7 separate regions of the Homo sapiens genome follow, and regions 2, 3, 4, 5, 6 and 7 are each reported to be linked to region 1. Evidence: microRNA targets listed by miRTarBase, many of them from high-throughput screens and not tested one by one. Region 1 holds a microRNA gene; each other region holds the end of a gene's coding sequence.
The links. Region 1 holds the annotated microRNA hsa-miR-603 (CACACACUGCAAUUACUUUUGC, at 1,687-1,708, shown strand). A microRNA usually pairs through its seed, bases 2 to 8, with sites in the 3' UTR of a target mRNA and lowers its output. Matches are read on the target gene's strand: a 7mer-m8 pairs with bases 2 to 8, a 7mer-A1 pairs with bases 2 to 7 and ends in A, and an 8mer does both.

Region 1 (4,648 bases):
AATGATTTACATTTCACATATTACCAGAGTAATGACTAATAGCATACATGTATAAACTGAAAAGTGACTGATGCTTATTTTCAGATGGGTCCAAATTTATTGGATAATTATGGAGAATAATGTATGTTTTCTGAGAGTTGGTAGTAAGAAAATATTGCCATTGCTGGCCAGGCACAATGGCTCACACCTATAATCCCAGCATTTTGGGAGACTTGAGGTCAGGAGTTCATGACCAGCCACCTCAGCCTCCCAAGTAACTAGAACTACTGGTGCATGCCACCAAGTCCAGCTAATTTTTTTTTTTTTTTGAGACGGAATATTGCTCTGTCACCCAGATTGGCTGTGTTCTCCATTCTAAGTCCAGTGGTTAGAAATTGTCAAGTTCTCACATCTGCAAAAAAAGTAAAAAAGATGAACCTGCTACATCTAAATATACTTTGTTGTCTTCCTACAAGTCCTATTTTACATACTTATGGCATTTTTACTGCAGTTTGAAAATACAGTCAATTCTTGTTATTCACAGTATTGATGTTCTATAAACTTGCCCTAAATACTGCATTAGTGAGTCCTGAATTTATTAGTTAATACTGAATTTCCTAGGGGAAATACAGGGTTAGGTTCCTGTGAGTCTTTGGTTACCTTTTTATCAACCAATCAACAAAAATCCTTATTTTACCTGTGTTTTTGTTTGAAGACACCTTTTAAAATATATATTATTGATTCATTAGCATTGAACTAAGCTTATCTAATGCACTTATTTTTTGTGTAAGGTGTATCACAGCCTTCTTGAGCCTAGGAATGCCAAATAGTACTTCCACACCATACTTAAGGGCCATTTCATTTTATTTCTTATTTTTAAAATTTATTCTCTTTTCTTATTTAAAGAAAAAATTTGTAGATGCCGGGTCTCGCCCTCTTGACCAGGCTGGAGTGCAGTGACACAATCACAACTCACTGGAGCCTCAAACTCCTGGGCTCAAGTGATCTTCCCACCTCAGCCTCCCAAATATCTGGGACTACAGGCACACGCCACCATGCCCAGCTAATTTTTTAATTTTATTTTTTTGTAGAGGCAGGGTCTGGCTATGTTTTTGAGGTCTTAATTCCCCAATGAACATGACTAGTATATTCCAGGCTGGTCTTGAACTCCTGTCACAAAGCAATTCTCTTGCCTTAGCCTCCCAAAGTGCTGGGATTTCAGGCATGAGCCACTGCACCTGGCTTGGACCATTTTAAATAGTGAAGTCACTCACACACACATACACGCATGCAGGTGCACACACAGACACAAAAAGACACAAAAATGCGAAACTTGTGGCACTAAAAAGACTGTGGAAAGGGTGCTTCCTTACAGTATGAAAACTGAAACAAAAAAGCAGAGTGTTGTTTAGTTAGACGCCACCTGGGAACGTGCTTGTTGGGAAACTCCAGTTGTCCACTGTCCTGCCATGTCTATGATGACTGCAAACATTTGGGAGTATTAATTTGAGGGTCACAAACAGATTTTAGGTGATGGGCATATTTACAAATACAGAATCTGCTAGTAATGAGGACTGACTGTATAATGCTTTAGTAGTCTCAAGTATGTTTTTTTTCTCATTAAGCCTTTGCTTAAGATGCAGGCAAGATTGATGCTGTTGGTTTGGTGCAAAAGTAATTGCAGTGCTTCCCATTTAAAAGTAATGGCACACACTGCAATTACTTTTGCTCCAACTTAATACTTGGCTTTATTGACTTTTAGCATCAGTGCAGTTTGGTTAATGATAAAATTTTCCAAAGCAGTGTCTCATCTGCAGGAGCAAACTATAGCAAGGGCCCTGGCCATCAGTTCTCCCTTCTGGTCCTGATATTCCTTTTTAAACTGTCTTTCCATACCCCTCCCTCCAGTGGGCTTGGCGATGTTGCATTAAATAGCAAAGAGAAGGAAACTCCTCCCCAGTCCTCACTGACCATTTCTTTTTCCACTCAGTCCTGCTCAGAATGTAGAAGAGAAGTTGAATTTAATTCATAAATTCAGCAGCTTGAGGACTGTCAGTTTTGTCGTTATTTAGTGAAATAGTAATTGAATTGGGCTACAAGGTCATTGGAATCTGCTGTTTCATTTCATATCATTTTACGTGTTATTATTCTAATAAGAATACAAATGGAGTTTGATGCCATTTGCTGATCATCCATCTTATTGATGCCATTGAACAGAACGCAGAAACACAAAGGGATTTATAAGGCATTTCAGTTTTGATGTCCTTTGAAAAATGAAAGTCTTTTCAGAAATGCAAAAGACAAAATGACTTAGAATTCCATCTCGTTCTGCCCGGTTTGAGGGCATCCCTTCCTATTCCTTAGATAGCTGTTAATAAGAGTCCTGAGGAAAACTGGGTTTGAATTTAAAAACAAAAAATTTTTAAGAGACAGGGTCTCGCTTTGTCACCCAGGCTGGAGTGCAGTGGCACAATCATAGCCCCTGTAACCTTGAAGTCCTGGACTCAAGTGATGCTCCCACCTCAGCCTCCCTAGTAGCTGGAACTACTGGCACATGCCATCAAGTCCAGCTTTTTTTTTTTTTTTTTCTGAGATGGAATCTCACTTTGTCACCGAGGCCGTAGTGCAGTGGCGCGATCTCGGCTCACAGCAACCTCTGTCTCTCAAGTTCAAGTGATTGTCCTGCCTCAGCCTCCTGAGTAGCTGGGACTACAAGCATGTGCTACTACGCCCAGCTAATTTTTGTATTTTTAGTAGAGACAGGGTTTCACCATATTGGCCAGGCTGGTCTGGAACTCCTGACCTTGTGATCCGTCCGCCTCAGCCTCTCAAAGTGCTGGGATTACAGGCATGAGCCACCACACCCAGCCAAGTCCAGCTAATTAAAAAAAAAATAAAAATCGTAGAGATGGGGTCTCCCCGTGTTGCCCAAGCTGGTGTCAAATTCCTGACCTCAAGCAATCCTCCCACCTCGGCCTCCCAAAGCTCTATGATTATAGATGTGAGCTGCCATGCCTGGCCTTAAATTTTTCAAAAGCTTTTAAACCAATCTTAAAATGTTTTATCCTCTTAGAATCATGTCCCTAGTTTTATAGCTTGGAAATTCTTGCTCTTTTCAAATTGCTCTTTAACTCTGGCCTGATTGGAAGGTGGCAGCTTTTCAAATACAGGTCATGGCAGCGCTCAACCTGGATTCCTCAGTTGCAGAAGACTGCTTTTGCTAGACTGCTGAATTTACTTCCAACTTTTCAGATGTTTCTGAGGTTGACCCTGGTGTGGTTCCCACTCAAAGTGGAGCAAGCAGGTGGGTGGCAGGTCTCTTCTTAGCGGCTTCCTAGAGGGAAGCCTCGTGAGTGGGATGGGGGACAGGTTGCCCTGGGGGAGCCCAGGAATGGGGAGACAAGGCCACCTGCTATGCAGATGATATAGTTTGGCTGTGTACCCACCCACTTCTCATCTTGAATTGTAGTTCCCATAATCCCCACATGTTGTGGGAGGAACCTGGTGGGAGGTAATTGAATCATGGGGGCGGTTTTCCCCATGCTATTTTCATAATAGTGAGTGAGTTCTCATGAAAGCTGATGGTTTTATAAGGGGCTTTCCCTTTCACTGGGCACTCATTCTTCTCCTTGCTGCTGCCATGTGAAGAAGGACGTGTTTGCTTCCCCTTCAACCATGATTGTAAGTTTCCTGAGGCCTCCCCAGCCCTGCAGAACTGTGAGTCAATTAAACCTCTTTCCTTTATAAATTACCCAATCTCAGGTTTGTCCTAATCGCAGCATGAGAATGGCCTAATACAGTAGGTTTTCCTGAGTCCTCTCTCTGACTCACCCTCTGACGGGCAAAAGACAGTGGCAGCACTGCCAGCAATCAGCTGGGAACTTCTCCCCTGTGATAGAAAGCAGTGCTTGCTGGCTTCCCTTTGTGATGCTTTTGGACAGCAGCTCTATGGACCTATGCCTTTTGTCCTTTGAGGACGGACGCACAGTCTGTGCAGCTCGAGGACGCCGTCATGGGTGAGATGCTGTGGAGTGTGATGACGCCACCTCTTAGGCTGTGTGTGAAAGTAGCGAGGAGAGGCAGGGTCTGCATGAGCCACTTTGGAGCAGGCCAAAACACTGTGGAGAAGCACATTACAGCCACAGTGGCGGTGTAAAGGGTCAGACTGACCACTGGCTTCTGGAAAGTCTTCATTTCTGAAAGACTGTCAGGTAGAAGATGGATGAGAGTTACTCTGTGAGGCCGGAAACCTAGAACTCAGACCATTGTGTGCAGACCAGGGAGAGGCAGTGTTTGGAGTGAGATAAGCAGGAATTTTGAAATTACACAGACCCGGTTTTGAATTTACTCATGAGCTGTGTGGCTTAGAGAAAGCTGTTTAATCCCACTGACCTTCATCTGTGAAGTGTCCAAAAATAATACAGAGCTTGCAGAGTTGTGTGGATAAGGGATAATCTATCGAAAGCATGTGGCAAGTGGCAGACACAATGTGGGCACTAGGCAAGTGGCAAGTCCCTTGTATTGAGTCTTATTTGTCTATTCAGTGAATATTTGGATACCAACTCTGCTGTTCTGGGCATGATGTTAGCCACTGGGGAGACAGAAGGAATGAAAGAGATGAGTAACCTAATGTGTGCTGTCTAGTGGGGACTGCAAATAAAGTGGGTGT
Region 2 (4,648 bases), not on the chromosome of region 1:
GACATGGACACGTTTTAGTTGAGAAGTTCAATTTTGCAAAGAATTTAATTTTAAATAAATAGAATCCAAATATGTCCTGCTTCATGTTTTGTTTCATAAGCAGATTTTGGTTTTTTGATACTGTAAAATTTTTAAAATGCAAAAATGTGATACAGTTTCCAGAGAAACTGAATGCTGTAGCTTCTACCAAAGATAGCTGGTATTAAGGTGACCTAAAGAACCATGAACTCATCCAAAGTACAAACGTTTACAATTCGAGCCAATCTTGTTTACATTCTCTCAAACACTCAAAGCTGACTCAATAAATTCCCACGATTCCTGCCTAACTTGTTACTTGGTATGGTGGGCTAATGGTACTGAAGGTGGTTTCCATCTCCGGGCTACTGTCCTATCCAGAACACACGCAGCTGATAGAGGAGAGGACGCTCTCCCATCATGCAAAGCTTGAAACCCAGTTTCTAATCTAGACACAGCCCAACCCCCAGACATGCATACCTGGAATGGATTCTTTTGTGATTTAGTACCCAACAACCATGTCAAGCAAGTACAGTAACTCAGGACAAATAACTTGTTCCCCCTGCATCCCATTTCTTTTAGTTTTTAGAGCCTATGGACTCTACTGCATCTCCATTTGGTAAATTTTTTTTTTTTTTGTGCGCAGGCAGCTTAAGTTCATAGGAAGAAATAAGGTTCTGATATGTTTAGAGTGCACATTTTAAAACAACAAAATAAAAATTTCAAGCATGTGATAAAAATATTGATTTTTATAATACAGTATTGCTTTATAAATATAGATGGAAAAGCTATAAACTTTACTGGTCTTTGGTGCATCCAGAGAGGGATAAATAATTTGCCATTTGTAAATTAGAAATCCAAATTTTTTCTTTTGTTATAAAAGTCCATTACATGAGGCGTGTGTGTGTGTGTGTGTTGCTTAAAATATAATTAACACACACATCAGGTTCAGAATCAGACCCACCAAGTGGTACAGCACAGTAACAACCCATGGAAGCTTGGGTCTGTGACCTGGAAAATTCTACTATGGGTCCAACACAGCCTCTGACCACTGAGAGTAGGAGAGATACTTGTTAAGCAGCACTCCAGCTGACCCCCCCGGCAGTCATAAAATTAAGTGCATAACACAAAAAGAACAGGGGAAAATAGAGAAAATATTTTATGTCACTAATCTATAGGCCAGATCCAAAGCCAATTCCACTGTGAAACTCAATTCTTGCCCCCACTACTTTCAGTATCACTGGAACAAACACATCGTCAATTTCTAACAATCGTTTCTCAAAAAGGTAAGCTGAGTAAATAAGTTGTATAAAACACCACCAATCTAGCTTTACAAAGATTGTGTTTGACGGGTTAAATGAGAGCAGAGAAAAACCAGAAACTTGACGAGCACTGCTCTTACCAGGAATTAAATGTAGGCGTTGGAAAATGAATGCAAAATATATCCAGATCATAAGGCTACATACTCTTACCAAAAATAATTGAAAACCTAAACAAAAGAGCTGAAGTTGTCAGTCCTAATATAAATGTATTCATTCTAACAAAACCCTTCTGGATGCAACTTTCTTTACTTTTTAAATACACAGAGACTGCAAATAGTTTGTGCAAAATAAATACCCCGCCACTTGCCACTCATGCTTCTGTGTTTTATCATAGCATGATGATTTCTCCTTAAATAGAGACTCCGTCCAGACCCCCCACCCCGCCCCCACCGCGTCTACCAAAGAATTCTGTTTTGTCAAGTTAGGGTAGTTAAGGCATTCTGACATGTAATTAAAGGTGATTCAAAATAGATTATCTAACATTATGCCAATTTAGGAATAGTAGATAAATTACTGAACGGCTTACAAATGAATAACTCATTCTTATTATAAATGAAATGCCTGTTACAAGCATGATGCATTGAAATATAGTAATGACATGTACATGGTACATGTTAAACAATTTTAAATAAAAGCCTGACAGTTACTCAAATATACAGTACAAATTCACAAAACAAAATCTTTTAAAACAAGTTGAGGTAACCTCAAACATAAATTTTAATGCAATAAACCAGGGAGTCAGTATCTCCTTTAGAGAAAGACTTTCTATATTCTCAAGTAGATTCTCATCAGGTTTAATTGCATTCTCATCTATACACCAATGTTACCTGACTTATATATAAAACATGGCTTTAATTTAAGGATTTCTAAGTATATATTTTTTTCTACCACCAAGTTAATGAAGGAAAAAAACTGACCCAAAAATATATATCTTTACAGCAGTCAACTTGTACACAAAACTTAAAAATAAGTTTCAGCTTGCAGATAATGTGAAAACTGAATGCGGGGTAGTTTTGTAAGGAAACTATACACTGCAAAATGGCTATTTGGAAACTGTAAACATTAAGCTTGATTCAGAAACCCCTAAATTTCCATGTGGGGTAATTGTAAATGTCAGATCATCACTGGGAGTTTTCCTCATGGACGTCTGTGCTGCTGCCGCTGCGCACACAGTGCTCTCTCCACATGGACTCACTGGATTTGGTGCATGCTCTATAGAAAGCAAGGCTACTAATAAAAGGTCTGAGAGTACGAGTATGGGTAGGTAGCATGACCACTGAAAGCCAACAAAATTCAAAGTTACAGCTGTCTGTTCTCAACCCTTCAGGCCTTGGGACCTAGAGTTCCCATTCAGGGGCATTCTATCAGACAACTAGGAGGAATTTCAGCCATAACAATTAAATTTCTAGGCTTTGAGGGGTTTTACAACCTTGAGTATTATTTCCATAAAAAAATACTGGTAAAGTGTCTCCCCTACCCCTCCTGGAGATCAGGCCTTAGCCTGTGATTTGGACTAATCAATAAACTGCCAAAACTTTAACCACAGGAACACAAACATCTTTTTAAAAGCATGAAATATTTCCATCCATAGAACTAAAATGGATTTTTCTCCCGATTTGTAACAAAAAAGCTTTTGGGATCAAAACTGTATAACCCAGAGCAATGTTTTAGAGCAGAATCATAAGCCCCTGAAAAATAGGAGTTTATAACAAAGACATAAAGCCACACCAATCATCATAACAAAGACTATGCCTGTGGAGTACACATGTAACATTTCTTTTGATGAATAATGTATGTTTCTAGTAGATGTATCATTACGTACAATTTGTGTTAGACTTGTACCATCCCTTTAGCATACTAGGATTTTGAATTCACTTTACCAACATTACTCATTTTCAATACTTCAACTACTTTGAAAAGTAACAGCCACGGTGGCACTGAACACCTCCATCCCCATCATGGAAAGAACATCGAGAAATGAAGGCCAATCTTCAAATATTGGATCTCTTCAATTGCTGCCGGCAGATATGAGCTAGTGAATGATAGTAGTGGTTCTCAACAAAGATCTCAACGAGTCTCAAGAAGACAGGCAAAAGACTTACATCACTGGCCATTGAGATCAGTGGCAAAGAAATGTGGTCCTGCCAGCAGGATCAGCACACATGGCAGGGGAAATTTGGGATGATGAAAGGAAAGGCAGGACTTGACACCTCAGCTAGTCTGTATACTCAGCCACTATTGAAAGAAGGACGGTGATGTCATCTGGCTTTCCACCTACAATGAAAATGAGAACCTATCAGTATATTTTAAAAGGAAAAGTCAATAAAAAATGTGTACTTAAATTAAGTACTAGGAGACAAATGCTTGCATTCCAGGCAGTTTTGGTTTGTCAGTATACCCTAGTAGAATAAAGAAAAAAATATTTGATTAAAAAAAAACAGTTAAACAAAACTCCAAGAAATTACATGAAACTGAAGCTTAAAAAAAAAAATCTTCCCTGCTCCTTTACAACAGGAGCTCTATTCAAACAGCCACCACACCCTCTGTTCACATCAATCACAGTGAATCTGACGAGAAAGTTACATGCTTCTATACCCACAATCCTAATTTAGACAGACATATCCAATGTTTTGAAACTAGGAATAGCCTTGTATTCTAATCTGCCAAACAGCTATGGCATGCACTTTTTCTATTTTAACATTTTTTGGAGGACTAAGAAATGTTTCACATGTCATAAAATTATACCAACAAGAAACTAATTCTACTAGCTCTGATATGCTAGCACCAACATGTCCCAGCCCTGAGACGGAGCCACTGGCCTGCTCCCAAAGTCACACATCATGCTGTAGATAGGACAAGTCTTCAGTCAAGGGCAGTTTCACATTGCTTCCCTCTTCAAACCCTGCTGTGGCAATTTGTCAGGCAAATACTGTTGAGTCCCACAAAGCCAGAGGAAGGGAGAAGCGAAATGTCAGACACGTGAAAGGCTGAATGTTAAACTGTTAGGAATGTCCACGCACTCTGGGCAGAGCTCGGAAGCCTTTTGGGTTCAGGTCCAAGCATTGCGGTGGCGGCAATAAAGGGCTTCAGGTTCCACCTGCCTCTGCCGCCAATGAGGTTCAGTTCTGAAGGGCATGCTGTGTGGGGAAGACATGACGAAATGCACTTGCTCTCATCCTCCTGACCTTGCTGAAAGCCACAAGTGCACAGTTTGGGGGCTGGGAGAGGACACCTCCACAGTCTCACCCAGAGCCCAGAATGCTCCACTCTACTGACACCATGTCCCCAGTCAGTCCCTATGACCTTCCCAA
Region 3 (4,648 bases), not on the chromosome of region 1:
GCCATTTAAGCCCTAGGGTTGACATGATCAGACTTGTTTTTTGAAAAAATGACTCTGACTCAAGCAAGAGAAAAGGATTATTTATTGGAGGTAAGGGTAGATGTTGGCAGACCAGTTAAGAGTTAGTCATGGTAACTCTTAACTGGTCTGGAAAATGGGAGAAGTTGAGTTGAACAGAAGTGAACAGATTCCAAAAAATGCTTAAGAGATTAAATGGACAAGATTTGGTGATGGAATGGATGTATGGTGAAGGGGAGGTATTAAGGCTAGGTTTCTGGCTCCCATAACTGGATGCTATTCTAGTGTACCAATCACCGAGATGCGGAATGTGAGCAGACAGTGTGCTTTGGTAGGGGAAGATCACACATTTGATTTCTAGGCATTTGTTTCTGAGATGCCTTTGAAATATCCAGGAGAAAATGTATAACCTCTCCAATTTGTCTTTTTTTAAAAATCAGGTTATCTATAAACTAATAATGTTCATTATATAATTTAATCAGTGCAGAAAAGTACAAAATTTAAAATATCACCTTCAAATCCCACCACCCAGAAATAATTTTCATTAACTTTAGATAAACATCATGTCAAATATCTTTCTATGTATGTATGCATGGAAATAACTATAAAAATGTAAGGCAGGGCAGTTATGAAGATGGCATTAATTAAGGTACATAATTATGGTTAGCACACAGAAAGGTGCTCCAAAAATGGTAGTCCCTAATAGTAACAATAGGAATAGTATGCCAAAAAGACTAGGAAGGAATATTCATTTGTGCAGCAGCAATAGAAAAAAAAAGAATAGGAAGGAATATAGACTGATAAAAGTCTATACCAAATAAACTGATCTTTTGTTTTTATTTTTGTTTTTCTTAGAATACTCCGTCTACTATGGGCTACACATCAACATGGATTTCTTCTCTGTCCCAAATCCGTGGAGCTGTCCCAACTTCCTTGCCACAAGGACTCTCACTCCCTTCATTTCCTGGGCCATTATCATCATATGGAATGCCTCACGTTTGTCAGTATAATGCTGTGGCGGGGGCGGGGTATCCAGTACAGTGGGTAGGAATTTCAGGAACAACACAACAATCTGTAGTAATTCCCGCCCAATCTGGGGGACCATTCCAGCCAGGGATGAATATGCAGGCATTTCCAACTTCATCAGTGCAGAATCCTGCCACAATCCCTCCTGGTCCTAAATGAATCAGAGTAGATGGTGATAAAAAGGGAGGTTTTTTCAGAATTATTTTCAGGACACCCAAGATATTAAAGTTTCTTCCTCTTGGGTTCTGTCATATTTTCCCTCATTTGAGTTTACTTTAGACTATATATTTTTTGTTCCAGTGTGGTATTTGATACAGCTCATCATTCTGTAGAAATGTGCAGTTTGCAGATAGAACACTGCACACAGAAATGTTTTTTCACTTCAAATTCTATCCTCTTTGATACTTGATTTTTTAAAAATACTGTTCAGAATGCTTTAATAAGCTCAGCTTGAGCATTACCATTTCCAGGACACTTTCCATGAATTGTTGAGAAGCTCCCCATCCCCCGCCTTTTTTTTTTTTTTTTTTAACTGCTGCTATCTGCAGCTGGATACTCTTCTTTAAAAATGTTTAAAAATTATTTAGATTGATTCTCCCCAAATGTGGATGAACTGAGACCCTCCATCAGCCAGAGTCTTATGGGATCTTCACTTCACATGTTTGTCTTAGGTTTACCTTTCACAGAAGGCAGGGTAACTTGCTGCAGGAAACGTTTTGGTGTATAAAATTAGAATCACTTTTTTTTTTTTTTTTGAGATGGAGTCTCTCTCTGTCACCCAGGTTGGAGTGCAGTGGTGTGATCTTGGCTCACTGCTGCAACCTCCCCCTCCTGGGTTCAAGCGATTCTCCTGCCTCAGCCTCCTGAGTAGCTGGGACTACAGGCGCCAGCCACCATGCCTGGCTAATTTTTGTATTTTTAGTAGAGGATGGGGTTTCACTATGTTGGCCAGACTGGTCTCAAACTCCTAACCTTGTGATCCGCCCTCCTTAGCCCCCCCAAAAAATTACAATAATTTTGTCAACCAATACAGAACATGAGCCCTTTTTAAATGTGATTTCCCGTCATCACAGCAGTAGGATGAAGCCTTGTTTTGGGTGAGACAGAGGGAAAGGGAAAAAACAGAATTGTAACAGTTCCTTGATTCTGCAGATACTGCTGCTGTTTTACGATTTCAGTAATAATTCAAAGCAGCTGTCTCCTTGTTTCTCACATGCATACTACATTGGTTTTGAGCATCTGAGAGGCATTGGTTTGTCTTGCATTCTTTTGCAAGGCATATATTGCAGCTGATATGAATCTCGTTTGGGGGGAATCCTTGTATTCCTAACAAGGGGGATTAAAGCTACACCTCAATCCATTCTTCTGAAGTGAAATTTACTTGACACAGTAGGTTTCGAGACTTACATATGAAACACTGGCTTTACAGGGTTCTCAGAGATGTGGGGTATACACTGTCCTGCAGTGAGATAGTAGACCCTAGAAGGATACTATTTAAGTTGTCCTTAGCTCTTTTTAATTACAATTTTTAGTTGTTAGAATTTCTTTTTAGTATCTATAGTATCTTAGATGATTTTAGATCTTAAATGAGTTTGGCAGCCTCTTTAGAATCTGAGAGAGATCACTGTCAAGTTGCACTTTACTGGGTTTTATCCAGTTTTAGGAGGAGGGGAGGCAATGTCAAAATGTACACCTTTGGTTTTTAAGAAGGTTAACTATAATAATGTTAAAGGCTAGTCACAGGGTTACCTAATGCTCAGTCTGTGAAACCTAAATAGAATTCTTAAAATGTTATTTACCAACTAAGTATTCATGTTCAAATTACTTACCTTCCACTCTGAAGACTTTAAGGTCATTTCTAATACACATTTACCTAATTAGGAGTTCTGTCTACTAGTAAACATTCCAAATTGCTACCCAACATTACTGTTAACAGATTTTCCTCCGTATTCTTCTAAAAATTATACCCCATGGGCTTGCCAGGTAATGACGAAAACTTAATGGGTGTACTTTTTTTTTTTTTTGCACAGTCTACTTTGTGACATTAAGTACCTCTTTTCCAAAAAAAAAAAAAAATGTGTTTTATGTTGCTTACCTGAGGATCACATCCATTATCAAGAAGATTCTGTCGCTATAATTTGAGGCATCTAGGGCAGCATTTTGAGAATTGCTGTTGATAAGATCCACTGTTTCTTTTCATAGAACATGATCTGTTTTGTATGAGTCTTTCCAAATGTTAAGTACAGATTCTTCAAATTTCTTGTACAGTATTGGTTTGCAGTTTAAAGTGATTTTAGGACATTAGTGTAATGCAAATGCTTGCATTGCACTGTTTTCCATATGTATAAAAACAATGCTCCTAAAATCCCTAATTCTTTAAAACTGCCTGTGTTTCATTATAAAAAGTTGGCTTTGTGTAATTACACCGAGCCATACAACCTATAAAGTGAAAATACTGCAGATTTTAGGACCCCTTCTTCTCTAGTCACAATCATTTTAAACAGTGTACCCCAGGATGAAAAAAGCTCCATGGCTGACATGTACAATTACATGTATTAATGACTGCTCTACATCCTATGTTCTGCCTTTGGCCACCACCTCTATTCCACATATAATTCATCATTCTTGTTTGCCTGCAGACTCTTGCAGTGCCTTGTAATATTTACAATCTTTTCAGGTTTTTGCTGGAAAGAAAAGTAGTCTTCTAAAGTTTGAAGATGGTGAATAGTGTACTGCTGTCTCCATGCTGACTGCAGTAACCGGGTTATCATATATGTTATGTATACATTATGTATATATAACATGTGTACATTTAAAAATACAGAAAAAAGTGAGCTTGTGCAGAAATGGAGAAAACAATGTTATTCTCATCACTGTGGGGTTTTATTAAAATTATTTTTTCCCATGACTTACATGTTTGGTTCAGATTATAGTCACTTTGACTGTAAATACTGGCTAGTTTTCTATCCAGGGCTTTTGCATTATTTCATAATTTTGCTAAATCATATAATAGTGCTATTTTCATCCTTGTCTGAGGTACTTTTCCTCCCCAGAAATAATTAACTTGAGGTAAAGCTCAGAAATTCCCTTCTTAACAAAGAGCCTACTATATAAAAAGGGCCTTCCTTTCCAAAAAACACACAAACCTGTCCTTTTCATTTTCCTTCTTGTAGAGGAGAAAATGGTTGTACTTAACCATCCTGCTTGTAAAGTTTATTCAGAGGATAGTCTGTATGTCCAGCCACCATGTTTACTTCTCAAAGTGCAAGTCTGATGAATAGTACTGTATCTCCATATGTGGTAATGTGAGCATTTCATCATGAAGTACCTGCTGCTATGTCTGTGAAGTTGGGTGTAACATCATAAGAATATGAAACCAGTATTGGTGTAAATCTAATGAAAATAACCCTATGTATATTTGTAGCAGTCTTGAATCTCTATTTAAGGTAATTTGCTGTAATATAACAAATATTCATTCTGTTTTTCATCCCTTCCTTGCCAGTTTTATATCAAGCATGAATTCCAATGGTTTGACAGCAAAATTATCTGTGAAAGTTTAAAAGGCACTTTTCTGCTGTGATTTTTGGATTGAGTGTGGAGTGTT
Region 4 (3,920 bases), not on the chromosome of region 1:
TTCTCTCCACTTTATGGCTGTAGAAAATGGAAGCTCAGGCAGGTTATGTAACTTGATTAAGATCACACACAGGTAATAAATGTCTGTTAGGACTTCAAGCCAGAGCTGTCACCTCCAAAGATTATACATTTTCAGCCCCATCCTCTGCTGTCTCTCCTCTTCTTTCAACCTCTTTAGATTTTACAAAGCACAAATGAAATAATGGTTGTGAAAGACCTTCACAAATTATAAGCATCAACTTACCGAAAGGCTAATTGTTGTAAAGTCCCTTTTCTTGCAGGAAATGCTTTCAGTTGCTGGCTGCCCTTCATCATACCGTTCTCCTAACTCCACTAGAGTGCTTTTTAAACAAAAATCTACTCACTTGGCTTTAGCACATCTACTTTATGCTGTTGTTTTTATATTTACACAAAAGGAAGGCATGGTTTTTGCAATTGATTTAATAAAAACAATAACAATAGTTACCTTTTATTGAGGACTTCCTGTGTGTCAGGTGCTCTTCTAAGAACTTTGCAGGTATTGTATTTAACACTCAAACACCTGTATGTGGCAGGTGTCTTTATGACCTACAGTTTACAGAAGAGAAAACTAAAACATGAACAAGTTAAATAGCTTGACCAGGGTCATGCAAGTATTTAATAGTAAACAGAGAAGCCGAGATTCAGTCTGGTCTCCATGATTGTCTGAAGTGTCACTAGAAGCATCATCTAGTAGCTTTGTTTTTAGAGCAAAAATTGCATAGAAGCCAATGAATCCAGAAACAGAAGTATTCAATGCTTAGTGCACATAAAATCCACCAGGTACCTTATTAAAATGCAGATTTCCAAGATTAACCCTCTGAGTTTCTGATTCAGAAGGTCTTTAGAGTCATAAATCTGCATTTTTAATAAGGATTTTGAAAAAGCATGTGGCCTCAGCCCAATGATTCACCAGTTGGTGGTCTGCAGACTACACGTTGAGAAACACTGAGAGAGATCAAATATATCTTTCTGGTTTGAAGAAAGTTTTGATATCGAAGATATCATGGCTCAAGTCCCTTTCCAAATAATCTGACATGTTAATCAACGACCAAGTGTTTATTAACTTATTGAATGAGAAATACAAAAGAAGAAAAATATATTTCCAATCTTCAAAGATCATATAATCTGGGCATGCTTACCACAAGAGTAGAATAAATTTTGTACACATAAGTAAATATTTGCAGTTTTGTTTTCTTATTTGCCTTGTAAAATTGTTGATTTTGAAGTTTCTCTCATTTCTTTCCCCTAGGCTATATTACTCAACGGGAAGCCTTGTCTTATGCTCTTGTACTTAGAGATTCAACCAAGAGAGCCTCAGCCAAGGTAGCTCCTCAAAGAACCATTCCCCGGAAAACTTCAGCCATGACAAGAAGATGTCCATCAGTACTACCTGTATCTGTGGTTCTACCTAGGGCCCAAAGTAAAAGGCGCCAAGTGCTCAGGAACTGAGACTTGGCAGCATTTTCAGAAACAGGAAGTTTGCCCATGTATCCCTGGTATCTAGTGGGTGCTTTGTGCATATTTGTTGAATGACAGTGAATAATTTCTAATATAAACCCCAGACCTAAAAATAATCTCTGATTCATATAAATTTTGCCAGCAAGACCAAGAGGTTTAAGAGCAATGGAGCCGAGAGTAAGCAAGCCTTTCCACATAACATCCGTAGAGTAAAAGGACTTTTAAAGCTTTCAAAGTAAAAGTTTACTTTGGATTAGAACCTCCTAGAGAAGTCCCCAAAACAGTGAAAGGGGACAAGTGACCAGAAAGGGCCAGGTCCTCTGTCACTGGGTGACCATTTCTAGCAAACTATCATGTATACATTTTGAAAATATACAAAACAACACAGGATTAACACTGATCATAGAGGGCTTACAAAATCATATCATCCCAGCAACAATTGGCCTGTGCATTTCCTTCCTCTCCTCTTCCCCATCAGGCAATGGCATTTAATTTAGCCCCAAAGCTCTTCTAGTTCTCACCTGGCTTGATCACTTTGTGTCATCTTGAAACATGCACTTATCAGTCTACCACAGCTGAATTGATTTTATGGAGCTGTAACTGGCCTTGACATGGGTAAGAGAATTCATGCACACATCTTTCCCTGGCAGCTGAAGAAACACTCTTAAAAGAATATGAAATAACCCCGAAGACTTTATTTCATGTCCAACCTTTCTGTGGCCTCAAATGTTTTAAGCAAAGCACATAAAACTATACTAAGCAGTGAGTCAGTTCATCATACAAAGGCATAGTATTGCATTAGTTATATTTAATGGTTATTTTCATCACCAGAGATTTTGTGTGTGTGTGTGTGTGTGTGTGTGTGTGTGTTAAAAATCAGTCACCAGTGCTCATGTAAAGTCAAAACAAAAAAATGCTTCTTCCTCATCATTGTAAAATACGTCACCCCATTCAAATCAGCTGATGCCTATGAAAGGAATTGGTTGAGGTGGAATATAAATTTTATTGACAAGGGATGTGCTAACATTGATCTGAAAGGAATATGCTGCATTATTATCAGAAAAAAAATCATTATCTTCTCTTTGCAATCATGAACATATAAGATATAAAAATTGTCATGAGATTCTGAACACTAGTATTGAGGTCCAGCACTACTTCCAAGCTCCTATCTGACTTTTCTTTGGGAGGAATGGGAAGTGTGGTTGGCCCACTAGTCTGATAAGAAGTCTTGGTGAAGCTAATACTGACCTTGCTGGGGTCATTCACTTAATCATAAAGAAGCTTCTTGACCTCTGCAAATTCTGGCCCTGACATGTATTCTAAATACCTTTACAGTTCTAAGTGAGAAATTGTTACATAGGCTTAGAAGAAGAAAAGACTCCAGTGGGACTGGGATGAGCTGCGTGGTAGCCCTCATAAAGCAGAGAGGTTGGTGGGAGACCTAACTTGGCCTATACTAGCCTTCCCATTGTTTTCACAATGGGCCTTTTATCCCCTCTGAACTGCTTGCCTGCACTTTTATCTTAGACTTTTTTTTTTGATGAGCATAGGTATTTGCTGTGTAAGCCTTATCTAGTGATGCAGAATATCAAGGAGGCCACTTACAATTCTAAGCTGCATCCCTGTATCAAAAATCTCAGAAGCACCTTGCATCTGATAGAGGCTTGTAAGAGCAGATTGACAGGTGAATGTCACAGGTCCATAAGAAGGACAAATAGATCTAAGTTGGGCAAAAGATTCTATTTGTTGGTTCTCCCTTCTAAGATGATAATATGCCCCTGCACTTGAGACCTTACTTGAAACTTAAAGAAATGTGATTGGTTATGGTGCTGGGAGAAAGGGGTGCACCTGGGAGGACACTGAGAAAGATAAACAAAGGGGAAGGAAGAGAGGACAACCTGTAACTTTTAGAAAAGGCTACTACTTTTAACTGTTGGAGAAAATGCTATTGCTTGCACTCACAATGTCAATATACATTATCAGAACTTAAGTCCTGGAGATCAGAGACTGTTTCACCTGAAATTGCTAGCACCTAGAATGGCCCCCGGTTGCGGTAGGCAATCAATAATACTCTTTGAATAATAATGAGGTTTTCAAAGATTCTGCAAGTCAGACTGGCCTCTGGCTTTGTGATATTATTCTAGAGTCCCAGTAACCCACAATTGTTGATGAGGAGTAGCAGTAGAATATCAAGGACAGGTGATGAGACAACAAGTCTATCCCGCAAAGGGCAGGGAATAGAGGGTACACTGGAAAGAATTTGAAAACAATAATAAAGCTGACTACAAGTTGGTCTATTTTTTATTACCACCATGAGCCAGCAATTCTAAATAATATCAGTGATAAAGTATTCATCCCCCAAAATATTTTATTGAACTAGGTTCTAAACAATTTCTGAGGTTACTGTTGAGTTTTAAATAATACATATATGTAAGCTTCAAA
Region 5 (4,648 bases), not on the chromosome of region 1:
TCTTCTGGTCTGTGTGTTTTATTCTATTTTCCTACAAGACAGCTTCCTAGGGTAGTGTTTCAGTCAGACATCCTCAGTACCATCTTAGTTCCTCCTCCCATAAAAATAATGCCTCCCTTGTTTTCTGAAACTCAGGCAGCAGGCCAGTCAGAAACCATACAGAAATGATATCTGGAGATTCAGAAAGAGCAGTAGATTTTAGATTGAAGCTACAGACGTTTTAATACACATAAATTTATATAGTTACTCATTAATTTATAAATGTGTCCTAATGTATAATGCATGCAAAATTCACTTGAGAGTCTTGTGTACAGAAAACAAATATGGTTTATATACTGTACAACCAAAATGAAACCATAGCTGAAAGAAACACAACAAAAAAGAAATAAAGAATAAAACTCTAAATCAGTATTTTACCTTGCCAAATGGACTGATTTCACTCCTGATAGTATCTCTGTGTTACACTTACAATAAACGCTTTCATCTTCTAGTCAGATTTAAGCAGCCCATATTAATGCCTTAACTTTGCTTTATGACATAACAATATTTAAGACTGGTCCATTATCTGAGTTTGTCAGAAGGCAAATTTTTAATATATTATTTATTATGTTCAGAAAATAAACATGGACAAATATACAGGATCAAAAAAGTTGGGAATAGCCCATTTCCCCTCATTGTCCAAACCCAACAACCGTTTTTTTACCGTAACAACAGGTATAAAAGGCACAGTTGCTTATTTTGCATTCACTCATTTATTTTTTTTGTTTCTTTTTATTGATTTTTTTTCAAAAGCACTCTATATATGGAGTGGCACCAGATTTAACCTATTTAAAATAAAAGTCATACAAACACAAAATATATTTCTGTGTCATGCCAGCTCATTATATAATAAACATGTTATGACAGCTAATTCTACTAGAATTACTGTGAATACTTACAGTACACTGAATTTTATTCTTTCACATCCATTTTAGTTTTAAAGAGAGGTTCACGAGTTAAATGACAATGGCATGGCTATCTTGAATGGGGTGCAAACATCATTGGGGAATGTGGATCCAATTAATCCGAAGGTCCGGTGTGACCCGTATTAGTTTTATAGACAAGAGAAGGGTTTAAGATAGGGTGAAATGAGCTATCAGTGGTTTCAATGTCTCATGAAAGAAAGAAATGCATTAAAAAAAAAAAAGTTTGTCAAACATCCGTGTTATGCAATTGAGTATTTTCTTTGTAACGTGCAAGAAAAAATGTGTATACATTTCATAAGTATCTTTAGAAGTATTTTGTCTTAATAGGTACTTACAGATTATACAAGGCAGAACTGCTTTAATGCAGTTTCCTAACAAAGTACTAGAATTGCATCTTTCCATAGTGTAAATAATAATCAAACATAAACATGTTCAATTACTGATATTTTAGTCCAATGTTTTTTGTTTCAATTACATATCTTTTTGCATCCTACCTATTATACATAAACTAACATCAAAATGAAAACTCCATTTAAGAAAGAGCATAAGGAAATGACCCCCAAATTGTACCCCACCAAACAGAGAAGCGGTTTTCAAAGATAAGTATTTTGAAGACCTATAGTGAATTATCAACCTATATTCCAGGCTGTGTCACTTTATAGTCTAAGAAATTCTGCAAAGCATGAAACTACCCAAAGCTACATTGTTTCTACAGTTTGCTAGAGAGCCATCAAGGCTATGCCTTAACCAGCTTGCAAACATTCAGTGATAAGTTTGTTCTCTTCACACCTGTTATTCCCTATTCTGTCCATGGATTGTCACTTTCGTCTGAATGTCCCAGCTCAATTTTCAGCCGTGTTAGGTTATCCTCTATAGAGTGAGTAGCTCAAAATCTGCATATTCTGTTTCTTTTTATTGCACTGGAAAAACTCTGCTTTCACCTTTGAGATATACATTCTGTGAAAAATGTCACTGCCCAAAACTCCTTTCTTTCATGTTCAGTCTAGATTTGTTTAAATAATGTTCAAATCACATTAGTGATAAAGTCAACTAGGGTGTCACCTTGTTTCAATGTTGTGAGTCTCAAAATATTTCTATATTGCACACGATTCAAAATTAATGCACTTGTGGTGCATCAAAGTGTGCACTGAACAAGTAAAAAATGCAATTGTAATTTAAAATGTGGATAAAAAGAGCAGCAAGCATAGCCTGGATTCTAAAATGATAATCGTGGACTTAACTATCAAGACTATATGCCAATGCATCTTTCTTAACCTACCCATGATCCATAAATACTATTTTAAAACATGGAATCTTCCCTGATAATATTACCTGAAACTAAACTTGAACCTCAACCAATTGCCTATTATAATACCAAAAATATATCTCACTAGTTTTCATTTTCTGCGCTTTCAAATAAAATCCATTTTAAAAGAAGGAACATTTTCCTGGGCACTATAAAATGAACTAGTGTTTGATTGTTTCTGTGCATACATGGGTTCAGTTGCTTTTGTTGTTTAATGGTTTTCCACGTCAAGACCAAATCAACTTCATGACTTCCCTGATCTGCCATATGATCTTTGGCCTTTGGATGATACAATTGTTCAAGTTAGTTAATAATAGTGGTCTTGTTCTGAAAAAATATATATAATTTTTAGAAGTCATAACTGGTGAAATTGATACATGTAATCAAGACTGTGTGTATACTGAGAATATTTGGTGAATGTATGGAATTGAAGTTGATGCTCTTGACCTGAAAATAACAACATATGACAATTTAGGACTGCAATCACCCACTGAGTATTGTTTTTCTCTTAGTCTTTGTTGGAATATTAAAGCTTTGATATTCCCAAAATACTTTTTAATACAGTCCCTCTTTCTAAGGACTGTACCTTTAGAGGGACTCTATCACTTTCAAAGGATTGCCTTTGATGGTGATAAACCATTTTCTGATGGTATGTCTGAAATACATTTTATCTGTCCTGCTTATTTTTGACCAGCCAGATGACACTCGAACAAAATCAAAGTGACTAAAATCATGCTTCAGCTTAGGGATAATGAGGGTGTGTTGTGTTCTGCTAATCAGGCTTCGTACAGTTACTGTGAAAGAAACTTGCAACTATCCCCCTTTTTTTTTCTTTTCTTTTTGTTTTTTTTTTTTTGGAGAGGGGTGGGGAAGAGAAAGTGAGTGTTGGGAATCAGTGAAGGGGTTAGACATGCAAGTAACAAGGATGGTTTCTACATTGTACAGTAGAATCAGGCTAACAGTATCACTAAAGGCCTGATCTGGAGGCAGAAGTGGCAGGCAAAGCTTTGTCTCTTTGGTAGCCCCCTCTTTGTGATTAAACGTTTTGCTTTGTAAGGTTTTTGCCCCTTATTCTCCTTTTCATACATGTAAAGAACTTTGCTGTTGCTCCTTTATAGCCTACAGGTAAACTTCTCTTCTAGTGAGAGTATTGACAGGAGATGGCTTATATTCCCCTGTTTTTGTAAGGGGAATATCCTCAGGGTTGGCTTCCTCATTTTTGCTGAAACTAGCTGCACTGAAGGTCTCATAGGATGAGGTCAACTTTTTGTTCAGGAGGTTTCTGTTGCGGTCACCCATGATGGCGGCCTCCCCATTGGCCAGCTTTTCCTGGCTTCCTCGTTCATCAACAGGCATGAAAGTGGACAGTTTAGGCTGGCTCTTCTTCCTCTCCGGAGAAGTGCGGACCGGCATCCAGCAGGAGTCTGAGTGGCCATACTCATCACACTCACGAGTGCACTTCCCAGTCAGGGCTACATCTGGAAGAGGCCTTGAATCTGAAATCCAAGGAGAATAAGCCATTAGTATTTGACACTCCTCAACAGGCTCCCCTGATCTATATGAAATTAGAGGAAATATATAAATATATTCCTTACCATCTTATTTCTCATTTCCCAACACCCTCTAGCTCATCATTCCATAGGACAGTTTTTAATCCCATGTGCATCAAAGATAAGGTTTTGCAAGGACATCCAATATTATAGAACAGGAAAGTAGACAAAATGATACATTTAAGTGTGTAGATGAAACAGATATATGTGTGTTTGTTACAGGACAGGGACATGAGGATGGTCTCAGTTAGAAGCTCTAAATACATAGGTAAATTTGTATGGGTGCTAATATTTTCCACATCCATAAGAAAAATTATTAAATCCAAATAGACAATTTTCTGGATTTATAAATTATCCCAGAAGTGGTGTGCTTTTGCCAATTGGATTTCTTCCTGCTTATACATTATTCATAGAATGCAAATATGCAAAACCTTATATTTAAAATACATTCTAAGACATGGGGTGACTCATAAGTAGAACCTAAATTGACAGCACATTATGTGGTAAAAACTAAAAAGCAAGGAACCAGTAGTTACAGGTATAAGCATACTAGCAATATCACGCACCTGCCCACCCTAGCCCACATCCCCTCACCCCCCTCCTACCATGCCAAATGACCTAATATGTGCTGATGTGTTCACATCAAAATACACAGGCCATCTTATCTGAAATGTAATGTACTGGGTGAATACGGGTAAGTTACTAAACTTTGGATGAACTAGCCTGTACTCTAATTAATGGTGCTGTCCAATGGAATGGGAAATGACTTTTACTTCTAAAAGGCTAAATCATGTACAAAGAATTCTTAGGAAACAAGATTAAAGATG
Region 6 (4,648 bases), not on the chromosome of region 1:
CCCCATTCCCGCAGTGGGAGCAAACTGCATGCCCAGAGACCCAGCGGACACACGCGGTTTGGTTTGCAGCGACTGGCATACTATGTGGATGTGACAGTGGCGTTTGTAATGAGAGCACTTTCTTTTTTTTCTATTTCACTGGAGCACAATAAATGGCTGTAAAATCTCCTGAGGCCTCAGAGCTGCTCTGTTTTAGATATGCGCCATATCCCGCACACACATCTGCACGGACACACATGCCCACATGCACCCTAAGACGTACATACACACTCACACGCACCCTAAGACACACACCTCACTGTAGCCACTCAGCTAGACACAGGACAGGCACCCCATCACACTCACATGCAAAGTCCACACACACACACACACTCCCCCCTTTCACACACAGATATGCACACACAGGCAGTACACACTCCCTACGACATGTAAAAAAGGCATAGCCAGCCGGGCACAGTGGCTCATGCCGGTAATCCCAGCACTTTGGGAGGCTGAGATGGGAGGATCACTTGAGGTCAGGAGTTCGAGACCAGACTGGCCAACATGGTGAAACCTTGTTTCTACTAAAAATACAAAAATTAGCAGGGTGTGGTGGCGCATGCCTGTAGTCCCGGCTACTTGGGAGGCTGAGGTAGGAGAATCACTTGAGCCCTGGAGATCTAGGCTGTAGTGAGCTGAGATGGCGCCACTGCATTCCAGCCTGGGCAACAGAGCAAGACTCCATCTCAAAAAAAAAAAAAAAAAAAAAAGGCACAGCCAGAGAGCCAATGCGCGCGCGCGTGCACACACACACACACACACACACACACACACACACACGACCCACACTGCTCTCCCAGAGGCTTGTGGATGGTGGTGACAAAGAGCCTGAGTACTGGGACAGGCTAAATGGCATGTGAATCACAGAGCAGCTGCCTGGATGACCTCGGGCAATCACTTTCCCTCCCTAGACCTGTTTTCCCATCAAAATAATGGGGACAGTAAGCCTCTTGTGGTCATGAAATGACACCCCCAGATGGGGTGATGTTCTACATGTTTAATCGCTGGTAAAGACCAGGCATCAATAGAGAAAGGATGACAAGTAGGGGTCCTGGTGGGCCCTGTGGGCAGGGTGAACCCTTTAGCCCCAGACTGTGGGGAGGGGAAAGGGGACAGGGAGAGGGGCACTTCTGAGCCAAGGCAATGGCCCTTTACTGACTGGCACAGGGCACCATAGGGCACGGTTAATTCTGTGCGCCCCGCCCGCTCTCAGCCGTCTTAAGGCTGAGCCTGCCAACCCGGGACTCTAAAAGGCTGTGTCCAGGGCCTCAACCTCCTCACATTTCAGAGGGGACCCTGTTATCCCCGGGAGGAGGGAGAGGTCCCCAACCATCAGGATTCCAAGGAGGAGAGGAGGCAGAGAAGCGAGGAGCGCGGCACGGAGCTGTCTTCTCCCCAGGGAGGGCAGGAGTTGAGGCTGGAACGTGGAGACCTGCGGAGGCAGACACCAGAAGACCCGCGCACAGACGCACGCAGCCCCTGGGGCCTCGTAAACCGGATTCCAGGCGCTTTTGGCCTGGCTACCGCAAGTCCTGCTCCCCCTGGGCCGGCGCGGGGAAGCTATGCTGAGGAGGATCCGGGCCTGGCCCAGGGCCCTGCCTCCTCGGGAAAACAGCACCATATTAGCACTTAGCCTGTGAGGCTGGGGTGGGCGGGCGGCAGGAAGGGCCTCGGGTGCCAGAGGAATGAGCCCCCTTTTTGCTGGATCCCAGAGGGCCATCACCCTAAACCTAGGTGCCTGTCCACCACTCTGCGCATGTGTGCCGGCTCCTGCCAGGGCTAGCAGACCTTACCTGGGATCTTGGAGGTGGCGGGATAACCAGGGAAGACATGTCATGGCAGAGTGGGCCTGAGGGGGTGCACAGGCCAGACCCAGCAGCCCAGTCTGGCAGCCAGGGCTTCCGGGCCAGCTCAATGTCTCCCCCCGCTGTTCACATCCGTCAGTGCCCTGGGTGGGCCCCAGAGCCGCTCAAACCATGCCTGGCACTTCCATCCTCAGCATGGCTCCGGGAAGAAGGTGCTTTCATCCCCTGCACTGTAGCAACGAGGACTCTGAAGCACAGGTCACCTGCCACCCGGGCTCATGAGGCCAGGTGGAGGGTCTGGCACTGCCCCAGGTTGCTGGGTGTTGTGGTCCTTGTCACCGGTGCGACCAGCTAAGGGGACATCAGCCCTCAGGTGCTCCCCATCGGCCACACACATCCCGCCCCAACACCAGCCTTCTGAGAGTCCTCACCACCCTTGAATAAAGGCCCCTTTCATGTTTCCCTCCCGTGTCCCTCTTCCACTCACTACCTCCAGAACGGCCTGTAAGCTGTTCCCTCAGCCTGGACTCTGGGCTCACAAGAAGTCAGACTGTAAGCTGTGGAGCCTCGTTTCCTGGGTTCAAATCCCCCCTGTGCCACTTTCTGGCTGTAGGGTCTTGGGCCAGTGACCTCCTTCACCTCTAGCCTCTGTTTCCTCATCTTTGAACTTGGGGTTAGCTTGGCACCTGCCCCACAAAGTGGCTGTCAGGACACTGGGGCGACGCAGGAAGGCCAGAGGTCAGCGTCTGGCTAGAGGTGGCCCTACGGTGTCACTGTCTCAGCCTGCCCCTCCCAGAAGCCTCCTCTGACCACCTGTTCTGTCTCACCTCCCCCATTTCCTATTGTGACTGCTGTAAACACCTGGCCAGATGTCTGCCTGCTCCACCACCCTGAATGCTTACTGACTGAATAAAACGCTGGGTGGTTTGAAGGGCTGGTCACATGGGCCACCAGGCCACCTCCCGAACGTCAGAGCCTCAGGTCCCCTCTCCTTCTTCTGGTGACCAGGCAGACGCAGAACCCAAGACATCACGGACAGCAAGGGATGTGCGCTGGCTGCTTTATTTAAGGGCTTGTGATTGACAGCTGTCCCCATCCCAGCCCTTGCTTCCTCTACAAAAGCAACTGAACATGAAACGGGCTTCCTGGTTACCATGGGGAGGGGGGCGGCTCCCTGTCAGGGCCCAGCCCAGGGACCTGGGGAACGGCGGCTTTGAATCCCCGGCCACGGGCACTAGAAGGTGGAGAAGGAGAGCGGGAAGTCCAGTTGAGATGGGCACGGTGCTGGTGAGGAGGCTGGAGAGGTCCTGTTCCAGCCTCTAGTGGGCTTCCCTTGTCCAGGATGTCAGGAAACAGTCCCCCAATTCCGCCGGGGGGAGCCAGAGCCCCAAGGCTGGGGGGCCAGGGGCTGCAGGGAACACAGCAAAGGCTTTCGGAGCCAAGTGAGATCAGTTCAGGCCCCTCAGGCCCAGGAACCCGACACCACCGCGTACCTGTGAGCACACACTCACGGCCACCCCAGTGACACGTGCAGCCACACACACCCACACTCACTCACACCCACACCCACACGCACACCCACTACACACACACACACACACACACACACACACACACACACACACACACACACGGCTGTGACAGCCCAGGACCCACACCCTGGACCCCTGGAATGTCTCTGGACCAGAACCGAACAGCTGGATCCACAGTACGCGGGGCTGCTCAGGGGGCGGGTCCTCTGTGTCGCTACTGATTGGCCGCCTCGCAGGCGTCTATCCAATCACTGTACACATCCACGGGTTCTGACAGATCTGGGCCACTTAGGTCAAGGGCGATCATTGGCATTGGAACCCTGCCCTGCATCTTCTCACCCCACAGAAATCACTAGGTGGCACCTGTTCCTCTGGACGGCTTTGGCCCTGCACCAGGGCACACAGTGGGCCAGATGAGCAGGGTCCGGACTCCAGCCCCCTCCCCACCCTCTGGAAAAAGCCCAGGTTTCCAAGGATACACGTTATGGGCGTCTGGAATTCCTCTAGGCACACGGTACAAGAGATGACTCCGGTGTTGCGGGCACGGTCCCTGAAACAGACCAAGAGAAGGGACTGGTGAGCAATGCGTCCTGGGCCTGTGGGTGATGACGCCTTCACCAAGGGAGGCAAGGGGCAGGATGGAGAACAGCGGGGAAGAGGCAGTGGGGAGGCTGGATCCCTTGCCCTGTTCCCCACTCACATTTTCACATCACAGGATTTCTCGTGGTTGCAGAAGGGGCAGGTGAACTGGGTCTCGAGGGTGCCTGTCATCTTCTTCTTGGGAGGCGGCTTTCGTTTTGACTTTCTGCGCCCCATGTCTGCAGGTGGATGAGCCTGTGGGGAGTGGCAGATGTCAGTGGTTTGAGGAAACCACGCAGCGCCCCAGCTCAATGCTCTAGAAAGCAGGCCGGAAAGAGGGTCTGGGACTTGCACCGTGGTCCCGGGGCCTCTGCCCTTGAGGGACGAGGCCCTCAGTCCTGATGCAGGAGGACAATTCCCTGTCCCACTCTGGATGGAAGGGGTGAGACGAGGCTCTAACCCCATCTCTCTCACTTACTGCGTGACCTGGGCAGGTTATTTAAGCTCTTTGTGCCACAGTTTCCTCGTCTATAAAACAGAGACAAGGCCAGGCATGGTGGCTCACACCTGTGATCCCAGCCAGCACTTTGGGAAGCTAAGGTGAGAGGATTACTTGATGCCAGGACCTGGATACCAGCCTGGGCAACATAGTGAGGCCTCATCTCTAAAAAAAAAAAATTAAAAATTAGCCAG
Region 7 (4,648 bases), not on the chromosome of region 1:
TATGAAAGGACACTAACCAATAACAAATCCACACAAAGAAATAGAGCACTGGTAAAGGTAACTACAAAATACAGTATAAATTTAGTTTTTGCTTGTAACTTTTTTATTCTCTTACCTAATTTAAAAGGTAACTGCAGGCCAGGCAAAGTGGCTCATGCCTGTAATCCCAACACTTTGGGAACCCAAGGTGGGAGGATCGCCTGAGGCCAGGAGTTTGAGACTAGCCTGGGCAACAAAGTGAGACTCCAGCTCTACAAAAATACAAAAATATTATCTGGGTGTGGTGGCATGCACCTAGAATCTCAACTACTTGGAAGGCTGAGAGGATCACTTGAGCTCAGAAGTTTGAGATTACAATTAGCTATCATTGTGCCACTTCACTCCAGCCTGGGTGACAGAATGAGACCCTGTCTCTTAAAAAAACTGCATGAAGCAATAATTATAAAATTGTTATAGTGTAAAGATATAATCTGACTAACAGGAATAGCACAAAGGAGGAGGAAAAGAATATAGCCACATTGGAGCAAAATTTTGTAAACTATTAAAATTAAGTTGATCTTCATCCTAATTATATAGTTTTTAAGTTAAGATATTAATTGTAATCCTCAGGGTAATTACTTGGAAAAGAACTTTACAAAAGGAAAAGAGACAATATGAGAATTAAAATGGTAATTTTAGAAATATTTACTTGATACAAAATAAAACAATAATAAAGAAATAAAAGAACAAAAAAGACATAAGACATGTGGAAAACAAACAGAAAACAGTAGGTGTAAATCCTCTCTTAGTGGTAATTATATTAAACACACATGTACGAAACACTTCAATCAGAAGGCAGATACTGAACAATGGATTATTAAAAAATGGTCAAAATATGAGCTGCCTAAAAGAGACACAATTTAGATTCAAAAGCTTAAGTGGTTGAAAGCTAAAGGATGTAAAAAGCCCATACCAAGCATAAAGACAGCCATAAGACAACTAATACCATACAAAATAGATTTTAAACAAGATCTCTCACTAAAGATAAAGACGGACATTTTATAACGATAAAAGGGCTCATCTGTCTGGAAATATAATAAACGTACAAGCACATGACAACAGAGCCCCCAAAATACATGAAACAAAACCTGGCAGAATTGACAGGAGAAATAGACAACCTAATAATAACAGAGACTTCAATAGGCCCCTTAAATAATGAAGTCTAAAAAGTAAAAAAAATAAATAAATTTCAAAAAATGTTTATAAAATAAGAATATAAAGAAAGAAAATATTTTTGTACAGCTGTACAATGTGTTTGTGTTTCAAGCTAAGTGTTATTACATAAGAGTCAAAAAGTTTAAAAATTAAAAAGTTTTTAAAGCAAAAAAAGTTACAGTAAGCTAAGGTTAGTTTATTACTGAAGGTAAAATTTTTAAAATAATTTTAGTGTAGCCTAAGTGTATAGCGTTTATAAAGTGTCCCAGGCCTTCACATTCACATTCACTCACCGCTTCCTCACTGAATCACCCAGAGCAACTTCCAGTCCTTTAAAAAGCTCCATTCATGGTAAGTACCCTATACAATAAAGTGTATCATTTTCTATCTTTTATACTGTAATTTAATTGTACCTTTTCTATGTTTAGATCTGTTTAGATACAGAGATACTTACCACTGTGTTAAAACTGCCTACAGTATTCAGTGCTGTAACATGCTATACAGGTTTGTAGCCTAGGGGTGTAATAGGTTATACCACCTAGGTTTTTGTAAGTACGTGCTATGGTGTTGACACAATGACGAAATTGCCTAAAAACACATTTTTCAGAATGTATTCCTATTGTAAAGCAATGCATGACTATGTATACACACACACACACACACACACACACACACACAAACAGTTCAGCTCACTTATAGATAAAGCTATTTTTCAAATTACAAAAGAAAGCATCATATATTCTACTCAAATTTTTACCTTCTCTACTGAGAGATCATGTGAAGAGGAAAGCTAAAACACCAAGATTGAGATGAACTGAGATATACTCTGACAAGTCAGGTTGGGGAACATGGGCAAGCCATTTACTGTACTTATCTGATTTTTAATTTCACTTGTAAAATAATATTTAAAATTCCCCTGAATGTTGTTAATTCTAATTTTTCTGTAATTTTATTTAAGTGTAACTATTTAGAAACATATTTAGTATATGAGGCAAATTACCTATTGTTTCATTCTTTTAATGTTATAATACTAAATATATATATTTATATTTAGGAAATGAATTTATGGATTGAGCTGTTTTAATTTTTTAGTAATATTTTATAATTGGTCACTTACGACTTGTAAGTCTATTTTCCATTGTATACATTGTACACTCAAAAACATTAAAATAATTCTGTGAAAATAAAGTGTAAGCTTCTGTTTTCATTCCTCCCTGTTACTAAGCTTGTTTCTCTGCCTCTCTGCATGCACCAACCCCCACACTCTTAGTTTTAAAGTCTCAGCGTACTAATAAAAGTGGGATATCTTCTAGGGACTTTGATTCCACGAGGCAGTGATTTTTATTATGTCTTAATTATTTTTCATGGGAGTGCTTCATTTAGATTACTTTCTAATACCCCCCAGTTATAACAAGATGATAGATTTTTTAAAATTTGTCACTTATTTCTTATACTATTATTTCTTATGGTAAACTGTTTACCATGCCTTTGCCCATGTAAACACTTGTAAGATTATAATCACTCCAAAATGAGCAAGTATTGTTATTGCACACATTCTTATCAAGAGAAAAAGAAAATGGCTTGGTGTTCAAGTTTTTCCATGGGTTGAAAAATGCACAAGAACTTAGCAACTTTGGAGGAAAACCAGCTTACTTTTTCTTTGATGCAACCAGAAGATTGCAAATCAATACTTAGCATTAACATTTTAATTGAGAATTAACATCACCATAATTGAAGATGAGGATGAGCATCTTGATGTTCAGGAGAGGGCTATTTGCTTGGGGAGGTCATTACGCTGGAAAGCACAAACACTGGAAAGGGAAAACGCAAATTATGTGTTTTCCTTGGGCATGGACATAAAGTAAACACTTGAACTGGTGGTCAACTGTAATTTTCTTCCAGAGCCAGCAATTCTGGCAACACTACACTTTCGATTTATAGCAAAGCACACAAGTAGCAGTGACTTTGAAAAGAAAGGATAAAAGAATCAATGAAAAAGTTACTAGTTCTTAAAGATCTGTGTCTCATTCGAGGAACTTAAGGACCTCTCCCTCAATCTAAAAGCAGAATGCACTCTTGCTGCTTACTCCCAGCATGCCCTCAGCTGTTCCTAATTACTCCTGGAGGAAGGCAATGATATTTGAGTCTGGGTTATCAACAATCCTTTAATTTTTTATTTTTATTTTTTTCCCTGGGATTTCGAACCAATATACTCCTAGCCTGAACAACATAGAACATTTCCTTTCCATTTTGGTAGAAATTATTTTTTAATGTAAATTATATTGTGTTCTATTTGTTTCCAATGTCTTGAAAAGTTCAATCACTTCTCCAAATTCTCCGAATAAACATAAGAAAATATCTCTCCCCAGCACTACCCGGTCCCCCAGTATCACCATCCTAAAGGCACTTCCACTTCCTCTATCATCAGGGAAGGAGTGTGCAGTTCTGATTTAGCTCCTCAGTGGAGTAAAGGGAATTTAGAGGAAGGGGGATTTCTGCAGAAATTGTCAGTTACACAAGTAAGTTCCTCTTGGTTCCCCGTTTCATCAAAAGTGAAAAACTGTTCACAGGAGTGCCCATGTCCCCTGTTTCCCTATGCATCACTAGAGCCAAGAGGGGACTCCGCCAGCAAGGCACCCTCTGCTCTGTCCCGCAGATCACAGTCCCCGACTTTCACCCCATTGTTTGTGCAATGTGCAGAACTGGAGCCCAAAGCAGCGGGCTCAGGATCACTCTCCAGGCCCGGCGGGCCCATAGACTCCTTCCTTGGCTGGGAAGAGGGGCTTTCGTGAAAGCAGAGCTTGACAAGCCCCAGTACTGTCATGGTCAAGATCACCAACACTACTACTGCTGTGCTCACAAATATGAAGACCACGGCAGAGGAGGAGTCGAAAGCCTGAGGAGTGGCAGAGGAAGTCGTAGAATTAAACTTGGAAATCACGCTCCCTGATGGGGTGATAGTGGCCTTTGACTCGGCTTGAAGGGACATTTGAAGGGTAGACATCGTGCTCTGTGATCCCCATCGAGGAATCTCAGGAATAGATGTTACTGAATTGTCTTGTTCAGGGACAAGTGGTGTCTCTCCCAGCTTCTCGTCGACCCTGATTGGCCATGTTCTCTGCGGCACGGGGCTGGTTGCAGTGGCCGGCGGGCGCCTGGTGGGCACCCCGGTCCCCCCAAGGGTCGGCTGTCCTTCCCCACTGGTCACACAAGAGCGGCCGTCCTTCCCCAGCTCGAAGCCCGTAGCACATTCGCAGGCAAAGCCTCCCAAGTCGTCTAGGCAGTTAGGGAGCTCTGCGCATTTGCCAGCACGGAGGTACCTCCCGGGGCAGGGACACAACACATCGCCCGAGAGTTTGTCCCAGCGAGCGCCGATTTCGTCCGCGATGCAAGTAACTGAGATCGGGAGCTGTCCCCGGCAGAGCGCACTCACCTCGGTCCCAGGTGGACTGAA

Region 2: the mRNA of PPTC7 is a reported target of hsa-miR-603. The part of its 3' UTR that is shown has no 7-base or 8-base seed match.
Region 3: the mRNA of WNK3 is a reported target of hsa-miR-603. The part of its 3' UTR that is shown has no 7-base or 8-base seed match.
Region 4: the mRNA of FAM216B is a reported target of hsa-miR-603. The part of its 3' UTR that is shown has no 7-base or 8-base seed match.
Region 5: miRTarBase lists PCDH7 as a target of hsa-miR-603. The part of its 3' UTR that is shown has no 7-base or 8-base seed match.
Region 6: the mRNA of ELOF1 is a reported target of hsa-miR-603. Seed matches in the 3' UTR shown: 7mer-A1 at 3,427-3,433 and 7mer-m8 at 3,346-3,352.
Region 7: the mRNA of CLEC14A is a reported target of hsa-miR-603. The part of its 3' UTR that is shown has no 7-base or 8-base seed match.

The regions. Positions count from the first base shown.
Region 1 is chr10:24,274,059-24,278,706 of GRCh38, forward strand. It overlaps MIR603 (microRNA 603), which reads left to right and starts at 1,627; the gene lies at 1,627-1,723. All of the region lies in intron 2 of KIAA1217, which reads left to right.
Region 2 is chr12:110,533,485-110,538,132 of GRCh38, forward strand. PPTC7 (protein phosphatase targeting COQ7) reads right to left here. Exons shown (of 6, transcript NM_139283.2): 6 at 1-3,611. The coding sequence ends at 3,553. It overlaps RAD9B (RAD9 checkpoint clamp component B), which reads left to right. Exons shown (of 11, transcript NM_001286535.2): 11 at 1-72. Among named protein-coding and RNA genes, the nearest start is that of RAD9B, 33 kb to the left of the region's middle.
Region 3 is chrX:54,194,879-54,199,526 of GRCh38, reverse strand. WNK3 (WNK lysine deficient protein kinase 3) reads left to right here. Exons shown (of 24, transcript NM_020922.5): 24 at 874-4,648. The coding sequence ends at 1,203. Among named protein-coding and RNA genes, the nearest start is that of FAM120C, 14 kb to the right of the region's middle.
Region 4 is chr13:42,787,322-42,791,241 of GRCh38, forward strand. FAM216B (family with sequence similarity 216 member B) reads left to right here. Exons shown (of 4, transcript NM_001318932.2): 4 at 1,270-3,920. The coding sequence ends at 1,469. Among named protein-coding and RNA genes, the nearest start is that of FAM216B, 7.7 kb to the left of the region's middle.
Region 5 is chr4:31,141,592-31,146,239 of GRCh38, reverse strand. PCDH7 (protocadherin 7) reads right to left here. Exons shown (of 3, transcript NM_001173523.2): 3 at 1-3,767. The coding sequence ends at 3,391. Among named protein-coding and RNA genes, the nearest start is that of LINC02497, 27 kb to the left of the region's middle.
Region 6 is chr19:11,550,156-11,554,803 of GRCh38, forward strand. ELOF1 (elongation factor 1) reads right to left here. Exons shown (of 4, transcript NM_032377.4): 2 at 4,077-4,210; 3 at 3,856-3,926; 4 at 2,891-3,655. The coding sequence starts at 4,192. The coding sequence ends at 3,591. CNN1 (calponin 1) reads left to right here. Exons shown (of 7, transcript NM_001299.6): 7 at 1-168. Among named protein-coding and RNA genes, the nearest start is that of ELOF1, 6.8 kb to the right of the region's middle. RefSeq lists enhancers at 1,438-2,409, 1,779-2,073, 2,493-2,612, 4,271-4,470.
Region 7 is chr14:38,250,763-38,255,410 of GRCh38, forward strand. It overlaps CLEC14A (C-type lectin domain containing 14A), which reads right to left. Exons shown (of 1, transcript NM_175060.3): 1 at 3,238-4,648. The coding sequence ends at 3,788. Among named protein-coding and RNA genes, the nearest start is that of CLEC14A, 3.0 kb to the right of the region's middle. RefSeq lists an enhancer at 4,513-4,648.